3 linked regions of the Homo sapiens genome follow. The protein of the gene in region 1 purifies or fractionates together with the protein of each later gene. This does not show direct contact. Each region holds a gene or a part of one and is shown in the gene's direction. Other genes may lie near its edges. The genes, in order: SLC7A9, ECPAS and ATG2B.

Region 1 (3,656 bases):
AAAATTAGCAGGGCGGGGGAGGGGGGTGGTGGGGTAGTGCATGCCTGTAATCCCAGCTACTGGGGAGACTGAGGCAGGAGAATTCCTTGAACCCGGGAGGTGGAGGTTGCATTTAGCTGAGACTGTGCCATTGCACTCCAGCCTGGACGACAGAGTGAGACTCCATCTCAAATAAATAAATAGATAAAAATAAAATTACAAAAATTGGATATGAGGGCGATCTGGCAGGGACATCTGTCACCCCACTGATCGCCAGGGTTGATTCAGGTGATCTGGCTGGCTAGGCCAGTGTCCTCTTCCTCCCTCACTGCTCCACGTGCATCCCTCCCGAAGCTGCGCACTCGGTGGAAAAGGATGACCATCCCCGATAGAGGAGGGCTGGTCTTCGGTCAAGGGTATATGAGTAGCTGCGCTCCCCCGCTAGAACCTCCAGACAAGCTCTCTACTAAAAATACAAAAATTAGCTGGGCATAGTGGCGTGCACCTGTCGTCCTAGCTACTCAGGAGGCTGAGGCAGGAGAATTGCTTGAACCGGGGAGGCAAAGATTGCTGAGATCGTGAGCTGAGATCATGCCACTGCTCTCCAGCCTGGGTGACAGAGTGAGACTCCATCTCAAAAAAAAAAAAAAATAAAAAATATATAAAAGAAAGGAGACTCTCTCCAGGGCTTTGCTGAAAACCATAAATGCAGAAACTGTCCCCACCCTTCCAGTGTTCATCTCGACAGTGAACTCACTGAGCGTGCGGCTGGGAAGCTACGTCCAGAACATCTTCACCGCGGCCAAGCTGGTGATCGTGGCCATCATCATCATCAGCGGGCTGGTGCTCCTGGCCCAAGGTGACCCACGGGAGGGTGGGCCCTGCACGGGCACACACCAAACGCCCTTCCACTGGGAGCAGGAGCAGCCTTGCCCCACGAGCCCATCTCCAAGGAAGCATGGCAGGAACTCGGTGGGAGGGATCCTTAGTTTCAGGGCGTGTTTATTAAGCTGGGGTCACAATCATGCCCATCTTTCCCGTGGAGATACACTCAAGATCTGCCCGGTTGACACCCGCCGTTCACTGTCTGGCTTCATTACAGGAAACACAAAGAATTTTGATAATTCTTTCGAGGGCGCCCAGCTGTCTGTGGGAGCCATCAGCCTGGCGTTTTACAATGGACTCTGGGCCTATGATGGATGGTGAGGTGTCCTGAGATGTCCCGAGTCTGGGGGTGGGTGGGGTTCTCCAGGTGACTTTAACTCCACCTGTCATGGAAAACAATGAGTTCTCCTTTCTGGGGTTTGGTGTGACTCTGACATTCACCCTCACATTTCCTTTTTGTGAAGGATGCGACAACCTCTCCCCTTTATTCCCTGAGACACCTGCTCAGTCAGCCAGAGTGCTCTGTGTAGAACCCTCACTGGGCCAACACAGGCTCAGCCAAATCAGAGGCAGCCAGGGCCCAAGCTCAGGTTTTCTGTTTTGTTTTGTTTTGTTTTTTTAAGACAGGATCTCACTTGGTCACCCAGGCTGGAGTGCAATGGCGTGATCATAGCTCACTGCAGCCTTGAGCTCCTGGGCTCAAGTCAGCTTCCCGCCTCAGCCTCCTGAGTAGCTGGGACTACAGATAGGAGCTGCCATGCCCTGATAATTTTTTATTTTTATGCTTTGTAGAGACAGTCTCTCTGTGTTGCCCAAGCTGCTCTCAAACTCCTACACTCAAGCAATTCTCTCTCCTCGGCCTCCCAAAGTGCTGGGTTTACAGGCGTGAGCCACTGCGCCCAGCCCCAAGCTCTTGATTAAACAAAGAATACTCAATAGCACTTCTATTTAACCTTGAAAATCATTAGGTTTGGGAGCCTCTCTGAATCTATTATGGTTTGGGGGACTGCCCTACAAAAATAAATAATACCATATAAATTTTATATATTTATCGAGTTTAGTGGATGAGATTCTGTTTTTGTCCTTTTTTTTCTTTTTTTTTTGAGACGGAGTCTCACTCTATTACCCAGGCTGGAGTGCTGTGGTGAGATCTCGGCTCACTGCAATTGCTTGAATCCCCCAGGTTCAAGCAATTCTCCTGCCTCAGCCTCCCGACTAGCTGGGATTACAGGCACCTGCCACCATGCAGGGCTAATTTTTGTATTTTTAGTAGAGACGAGGTTTTACCATGTTGGCCAGGCTAGTCTTGAACTCCTGACTTCAAGTGATCTGCCCACCTCGGCTTCTCAAAGTGCTGGGATTACAGACGTGCGCCACTATGCCTGGCCCATTTTTGTCCTTTAAGGAAGAAGCATGGCCATCTGCAACGATGGTCCTTCTCTCCTGCAAAGCATTTATAGATTTAATTCCCTTTTCAGACAAAGAATATTCCATTTTTTCAAAGCACCCTGGGGACTCACTACTCCTGATTATTCTTGAAAATCCGTGTGATTCCCGAGGAGGGCAAAGGCTCAACCAGCTGACAGATGTGTAGGTCTGGGTAGGGCCCCAGGCCCCACCACTAGCAGGGCCATTCACCTGGAAAAAAATTCACCTGGAATTCCTGCAGGAGAATTTTTTTCTCTGGTAGAGAATCTTAAATGAGGCCAACATTTATTATTGTGGGTTTCATTATCGAAAAAGAAAGTCAAGGTGTGTGACGCTTGTTACTTTCCTTTTTCCAGGAATCAACTCAATTACATCACAGAAGAACTTAGAAACCCTTACAGGTAACAGCTGAATCAGTGCAGAGGACAGTAGCCGGGCAGCCTGATTTCTCTTCTCCTGGTGAAGGCTGGAGCTATTTCCCTGGGTATTCCATGATGCCCTTCCCGACAGTGAATTATTTCTTTTTTTTTTTTTTTGAGACAGAGTCTTGCTCTGTTGCCTAGGCTGGAGTGCAGTGGTGCAATCTCAGCTCACTCATTTTTGTATTTTTTTAGTAGAGATGAGATTTTGCCATGTTGGCCAGGCTGGTCTTGAACTCCCAACCTCAAGAGATTCGCCCATCTCGGCCTCCCAAAGTGCTGGGATTACAGGTGTGAGCCACTGCACCCGGCCAGCGAATGGTTTCTTATGAGCTCACTATGCACGCTTAGAGTTTGGTTTGGTTTGGGACAGAGCAGTGGCTCCTAAGGGAGGGAAGAGCTTGGTCTTCCTTTATCTCTGGCTTATTTTGCTTTATAAACAGTTCCATGTGAACTGCTCTGGAGTCTGAGAGAGGCAGCATTCTCATTTGAAAATGTCTTATGTTCCTGCTGGGCCTCTGCTACCTGCGAATCTTCTCCCTGGGAGGGCCTCAGGGAGGGCGTCCATCTTCCGCGGGAGGCTGTGGTCTGAACGTGGGTCTCCGTGTCATTGCCCCTCCCAGAAACCTGCCTTTGGCCATTATCATCGGGATCCCCCTGGTGACGGCGTGCTACATCCTCATGAACGTGTCCTACTTCACCGTGATGACTGCCACCGAACTCCTGCAGTCCCAGGCGGTGGCTGTGGTGAGTGCCCGGGCATCGCTGCTGGCGGGGGCTGTGGCTTGTGGGAAGGGGTAAGGCAGGTGTCAGCACTGGAGGTGAGCTCCCTCCCAGGGAAGGAGGGCGATATTCACGGACGGGGACATGGACTGGGCACGCACGGCATGGAGCTGGAGGCAGGGCCGGGCTAGCCAGGGTGAGGGTTCGGCAGGCAAGCATGAA
Region 2 (3,656 bases), on another chromosome or scaffold:
TCTTCAGGCTATGTTAAATGAAGCAGAGACTTATGGGATGAGTCAAGCAGCTGTTGTGACTCCAGTTTTTTCTTAGTATATTTCTCTTTTCTTCTCTGTTACTAAGTGGAATAAATAATTCCCCAAATACCAGAAACAGTTGGTCCAAATTTGTATTACAAGAGACAACAACATATCAAGAGCTCTCTATAAATTTACATCTGTAGTCTTTTGATCTGCCTATTTAGAAAGGTTCAGAGTTGTGCCTGTGCCTAATAGTTATCTTTGGGAGGAACTAGGAAAGTTATAAGCTGTGGAGGTATTTAATGAAGTAGGTAACATAAAGGTATGTGAAGAGATTGGGCAATGTCGATATGTTGTTTTAGTCATAGGAAGGCATTTGCAGTAAAGGGCTGCTTGGCATTCTGAGGTTCTGATTTCTAAACTTCCTGGAGTCTTGGTAAAGTTACTCTGTTGTGCATTCCCTGTAATGGTTAGTTAGCTATGATTGTGTTTACTGGAAATTAGTTTGCTAAGCAGATCTGTACCTTTAGCAGGACTCTGAAGGTATAGATCCAACCCCTAAAAAAACTGAAGTGTACAAAAAACTATGTTAAACTGGTGAAGAGAAGTAGCTATTTTTTAGTGCCTGCTGGGGGAGTATTACCAAAATTTGGTCTAAGAATGTTATGTCTTAGTTGGATTATTGGGGGGAAATAAAAATTTAAAGAAATAGGAATAGTTAGTGAATACCATTTAGTTATATTCATTAGTAATAGAAAACATGTTAATTGCATTTTCAAAAATAAAGGCCAGCAATTTATAGGAAAAGTCATCTAAGAAGTTGACTCATTAGAGGGGGTTTGGTAGGGTAGGCCCACTGTAGAAGATCAATATTTAGTTTAGGTTTTTTATACTAAACATGGATTGATAAAGAGGAAGTAGGCCCAGAAAGATTCTTCATTCTTGAGTAATCATTATTTTTCTTTTTTAGCAAATTGATGTTTTTCATTTTTTTGTTTGTTTTTAGTGTTGAATCACTGATGAATAATTTTTCTGTTTGTAGTACAATAGTGGTTTTAATATTGAAATCAGAGCAGAAGCAAGCAGTGATTTTTCAACTTCATGTCAAATCCAGTTGGTACACGTTTGACAAGGGCAGTTTTTAATTGAAGATGTGGTCCTGACTTATTTGCCAAGGCTTACCTTTATATTTGTCCTTTTTCAAAAGTGCCTGCAATACCTTGATGTGTCAGTGCTGGGCGAGCTAGTTCCTAGGTTGTGTGAACTGATCAGAAGTGGTGTAGGTCTTGGAACTAAGGTAAGTGTACTTTCCACAAGAGGAAATGTGCATCTTCATTAGTTCTGGCCATAAGGATATAACAGCCATCATGTTTGAAATTCATGTTTTACCACAAAATCTAATATTATACACTAACCATTTTATTTCTGTGGTTGCACTGATAACTGAAAACATGTAACTGGTTCAAGAAATAAAACATCTAACTGTTCCAGTAAGTATTAACTTATTTAGTGGAATCATTTCTGTTCTCTGGTTGCCGTGTACATACCCTCTGGGTTGTCATTCATTAGCAGTTCATGGAAATGCACATCCAGTTATTAGGGCATGGATTGTTTTAGGTGGCAATTGCATTTTTCACAGAGGGGTCAGCAGTGTTTGAATAGAAAAATGTCCTAGTTTTCAAGATCTTTGAAGGATCAGACACCCCCCTACCACCCTTTTAACAACAAATTAATAACTCACATTTTTTCTTATGACAAAATTAACACTTGCTGGTATTTTAAAATTTTAGCATTTATAGATTAGGAGAAAGTTAAAATAAAAATTGTCCAGAATTTTGCCATACAGAGATAACTGCTGTTAATATTTTGAAGTGTTTCCTTCCAGTCTTTTCTGCACATGTATCTTCTGCAGTGTCCTCTTCTAATGGCCGTATGATACTCCACTGTATGGATGTAACATCATTTATTTTACTCCATCAAGGAACATCTGATTTGTTTTCAGTTTTTGAAAAAAATAGTAAAGCACTGTGATGAGTGTCTTCAGGCACACCTGAAGATATTTGGTTAAATTTCTGGAAATGGAAATGTTAGCACAGTGATGGACAAGATGACATATTTTGCTTTTCCAGAAGATTGTACCAGTTTTCTTTCTTTTTCACAATGTCTGAGATCACCCATCTTTCTCTTGGAGGTTTAAAAAAAATCGCTGCATTACTAGTTTAAGAGTTTGCCTTTTTCTATATTGAGTCCTGGAGGGGGTATTAGGCTTCATGTATTTTATATGTTTAAATTTTTGGCACCTAAGCCAATGGTTTGGTAGGTAGAACATTGTGACCATCAGATTTAGACCTTTGCTTTTGTAACCCTGTAGGGTGGCTGTGCCAGTGTCATTGTGTCATTAACTACTCAGTGTCCTCAGGACCTAACACCTTACTCAGGTGAGTTTGTCAAGGGATGTGTGGTGATATTTTTGCACAGCCCTGTCTTGTGTGACAGAGTTTTAAAAAGGAAAAATACTTATCATTCAGACCTGCTTGTGATGCTGTGTGCCTTTTCTCCCCTCAGTCCCCTGACTCCTTCATTTCTTTGTCTGCAGGAGGTGCAGAGTTTATCAAGTTTAGCAGCTTTTCACTGTTCATAAACATTTGATTATTCCTTAGTGGTATAAGGAGGTAAAAGTATCCTCTTTTCCACAGGACTTACCATTGATAGCTGATTTTACATCAGCATTTTTCTCTTCTTAGATTGGCTTCTAGACTGGACTAGTGTTCTTTATATACCTCGTTCTTATTTTGCATCTTTTTCCACGATATTCTAGTTTAATTTTAACTTTATATCATGTAAAAGGAAGCAAATGGATATATAAATATAACATCCAGAAATCTAAACTACTGTGGAGTAAATCAGATGTTAATTACAGGGTTAGGTTTGTTTGGGTTCTGGGAACAGAGTGGAACATTTGGTCAACCAAGTATCAGATTTTTTTCTCTTTATTTCTGGTAGGTAAACTTATGAGTGCTTTGCTGAGTGGCCTGACAGATCGGAACAGTGTGATTCAGAAATCTTGTGCATTTGCTATGGGCCATTTAGTTCGGGTGAGTTAAATTTCTTGCTTAGTTAAATAAAACTCTTTGACAGTTATAAAGAAATACTTAGGATTGTTTCTTTTTCAGACCTCACGGGATAGCAGCACTGAAAAACTCCTGCAGAAGCTCAATGGGTGGTATATGGAGAAAGAAGGTACCTTTCTTTTTCTATTTTATGTCATTTTAAATTTAGATGTTAACAGCCCAGTAAAACAGTACAAATTAGGTCTTACCCTCCATGATTTTATGTGATTTGCTAGAAACATTTGTTTCTTTTCTTTTCTTTTTTTTTGAGATGGTGTCTGGCTTTGTCGCTGAGGTTGGAGTGCAGTGGTGCTATCTCAGCTCACTGCAACCTCAGCCTCCTGGGCTCAAGCGATTCTTGTGTCTCAGCCTCCTGAGTAGCTGGAACTACAGGCACGTGCCACCACGCCTGGTTAATTTTTGTATTTTTTGTATAGGTGGGGTTTCGCCATGTTGCCCAGGCTGGTCTTAAACTCCCGAGCTCAAGCTATCTGCTCACCTTGGCCTCTCAAAGTGCTGGGATTACAGGTGTAAGCCACCACA
Region 3 (2,480 bases), on another chromosome or scaffold:
ATTGCTGAGCTGTATGGAGTTTTAACAGTTCTTCCCTCCCTGCTTTGGATTTTAGTCCCTCTATTAGTTATCCTATCCCTGCAATAAGGACTTGCAGCAAACACACCTCCTAGTTTGATATCACGAAACTGATAACTATTTGGAGGAGTATTTTTACTTATGAAGGGAATATTTAAAAGACATACTTATTTTTATTTTATTTATTTATTTTTTCAGACGGAGCTTTGCTCTTGTTGCCCAGGCTGGAGTACAATGGAGCAATCTTAGCTCACTGCAGCCTCCACCTCCTGGGTTCAAGCGATTCTCTTGCCTCAGCCTCCTGAGTAGTTGGGATTACAGGCACCTGCCACCACGCCCCACAAATTTTTTGTTTTTTTAGTAGAGACGAGGTTTCACCGTGTTGGCCAGGTTAACCTCAGCCTGGTCTCGAACTCTTGACCTCAGCCTCCAAAAATGCTGGGATTACAGGCATGAGCCACCGTGCCTGGCCAGACATACTTATTTTTAAGGGCAATTTACTTTAAAAGATTTTGTTGTGACAGATGTGACTATATAACATCCACTTTGAACAATTAGGGAAAAAATGACAAGTCACACTTCACCCATGGCTCTTGTTGAAAAAAGGGATGGGGACAATTGTGAGATGCTTACTGTGTGCCAAGTATCCTACTGTCTTTTTATAATTTCACAGCCCCCACTCAGAGGCAGTTACTAGAGTCCCTGTTTTCCAGATGAGGAGACAGGTTCAGAGAGGTCAAGAAACTTGCTCACCGTCACATGGTTTGACTTCCAGACCTCATGCTCTTCCCAGGACTTCATTTAAGAAAAGCTTGGAGCAGTTACCTAACTTAGCAAAAAGTCTTCACTAATTGGGAAACCACAGAATTTTGCTAGAAGATTGAGATTAAAGGCTCTTAGAATATTTGAGCAAGAAAATGTGCTTGATCTCTTCCTGGCGTCTCCAGCCCCTCTCCCCTCTTCTGGCTGTGCTTAGCCACCCCAGCGGTTCAGTTCTGCATGCCCGTGAGTAGGGGTTAGCACCACCTGGAAGATTTCTTTCTATAAATGCTGCACCACAGGCCACAGTCAACACTGATTAAAGCAAAATCTCAGAATGGGGCTAAAGTCGGGTTTCTCCACCTCAGCAGTTGACATTTGGGACCAGCCTGTGCATTGTAGGATGCAGGGGATGTTGCCACCCTCCCACCCCCCGCTGGCCTCTGGCCACTGGATGCCAGTAACAAACTCCCCTCCCCCAGTTGTGACAGCCAAAGACGTCTCCAGACATGGCCAAATATGCCAAATATGACAAAAATCCCCTGTTAAAAATCACTGGGCTAAGAGCTCTCCTGGGGAAAATCATGCACAGCCTGGGGCAAGAACGCGCTATGGCCGCCCCAACTCGGATGCTCTGTCGGGATCTCTGGCTGCTCCTGCTGTCTCAGCCCGGAGGCTCCACTTCAGGCAGCCTGGCCACCCTCCCTTCCTCTCTGTTTCCCACTATAGCATGCTTTCCTTTTTTTTGTTTGTTAAACTTTGCGGCACTCCCCGCATACTGTAGATCCACGTCTGTTTCCCTGTTTGACTTCCTTCAGGAGGGCAAGGGACTTAGGGACCCGGTGCCTAGCACAGTGCCTTGCCCAGAGTCAGGGATCAGCAAATGGTGAATGAGTGAATGAATGAATGAATGAGTGAGTGAACCCGAGTGGTCATCTAGTCCTGTCTGCAGGTGAGGAAATCGAAGCCCGGAGAGGGGAAATTCTTTGCCCAAGATCACATGATTACTACTTACAGATGTCCTTTATTCAATGTAAGCTCACGTTTTCTTGATTTTAGCAATACTTGTAATAATTTTTAAAATATAAATATATATGAAATAAAAGTTCATCATTGATTGACTATTTCCTATGTGGCGACTCCTCTGCTTGGCACTCGACAACACTCTTGGCCACTGTGTCATGGTTCCCAAACTTGTCTGCACATTAGTCCCCTGGGGAGCTTTAAAAATACACCCCAGGGATTGGGATTTAGCTGGTCTTTGGTGTGGGCTGCGCTTTGGCATTTTTGAGAGATCCCCTGGTTCTCATGTGCAGACAAGTTCTGAGACCCAGTGTATTACACTGCCCTGCCTCATTCACCAGGGCAGGGGGACATTCACATTCAGTATCAGCCAGGGTATGTAACATTCACATTCAGTATCAGTATTGACAATGTAACATTCACATTCAGTATCAGCCAGGGTCCCAGCAAGAGATGTGACCACTCCATGTGACAGACAGGTGCTAGGAAGGAAATACTCAGCACATGGTGGGCAGCACAGGGTAAGGGAAGCCCACAGGCACCTCGTGGCTGTCTCTGAGCCAAGTGAAGACTTGGTAGCTCTTCTCTAATCCCCTCTCAGCTCTGGGCCTGCCCTGGCCTCAAAGTCATGTGAGCCAATGGCCATTCCTCACCTTTTGTGGCTCTCCTTGTGGGAATGG

Evidence for each region.
Region 2: the proteins of SLC7A9 (region 1) and ECPAS purify together in Homo sapiens (affinity purification with mass spectrometry; one large-scale study listed by BioGRID and IntAct). This does not show direct contact.
Region 3: the proteins of SLC7A9 (region 1) and ATG2B purify together in Homo sapiens (affinity purification with mass spectrometry; one large-scale study listed by BioGRID and IntAct). This does not show direct contact.

The regions. Positions count from the first base shown.
Region 1 is NC_000019.10:32,859,643-32,863,298, reverse strand, and holds part of SLC7A9 (B(0,+)-type amino acid transporter 1), read left to right. Parts: intron 1-712; coding exon 713-838; intron 839-1,081; coding exon 1,082-1,181; intron 1,182-2,648; coding exon 2,649-2,693; intron 2,694-3,334; coding exon 3,335-3,458; intron 3,459-3,656. UniProt on the Homo sapiens protein: Associates with SLC3A1 to form a functional transporter complex that mediates the electrogenic exchange between cationic amino acids and neutral amino acids, with a stoichiometry of 1:1.
Region 2 is NC_000009.12:111,372,757-111,376,412, reverse strand, and holds part of ECPAS (proteasome adapter and scaffold protein ECM29), read left to right. Parts: intron 1-1,210; coding exon 1,211-1,300; intron 1,301-2,374; coding exon 2,375-2,441; intron 2,442-3,006; coding exon 3,007-3,098; intron 3,099-3,176; coding exon 3,177-3,243; intron 3,244-3,656. UniProt on the Homo sapiens protein: Adapter/scaffolding protein that binds to the 26S proteasome, motor proteins and other compartment specific proteins. May couple the proteasome to different compartments including endosome, endoplasmic reticulum and centrosome.
Region 3 is NC_000014.9:96,278,616-96,281,095, reverse strand, and holds the end of ATG2B (autophagy-related protein 2 homolog B), read left to right. Parts: 3' UTR 1-1,901; downstream 1,902-2,480. UniProt on the Homo sapiens protein: Lipid transfer protein required for both autophagosome formation and regulation of lipid droplet morphology and dispersion.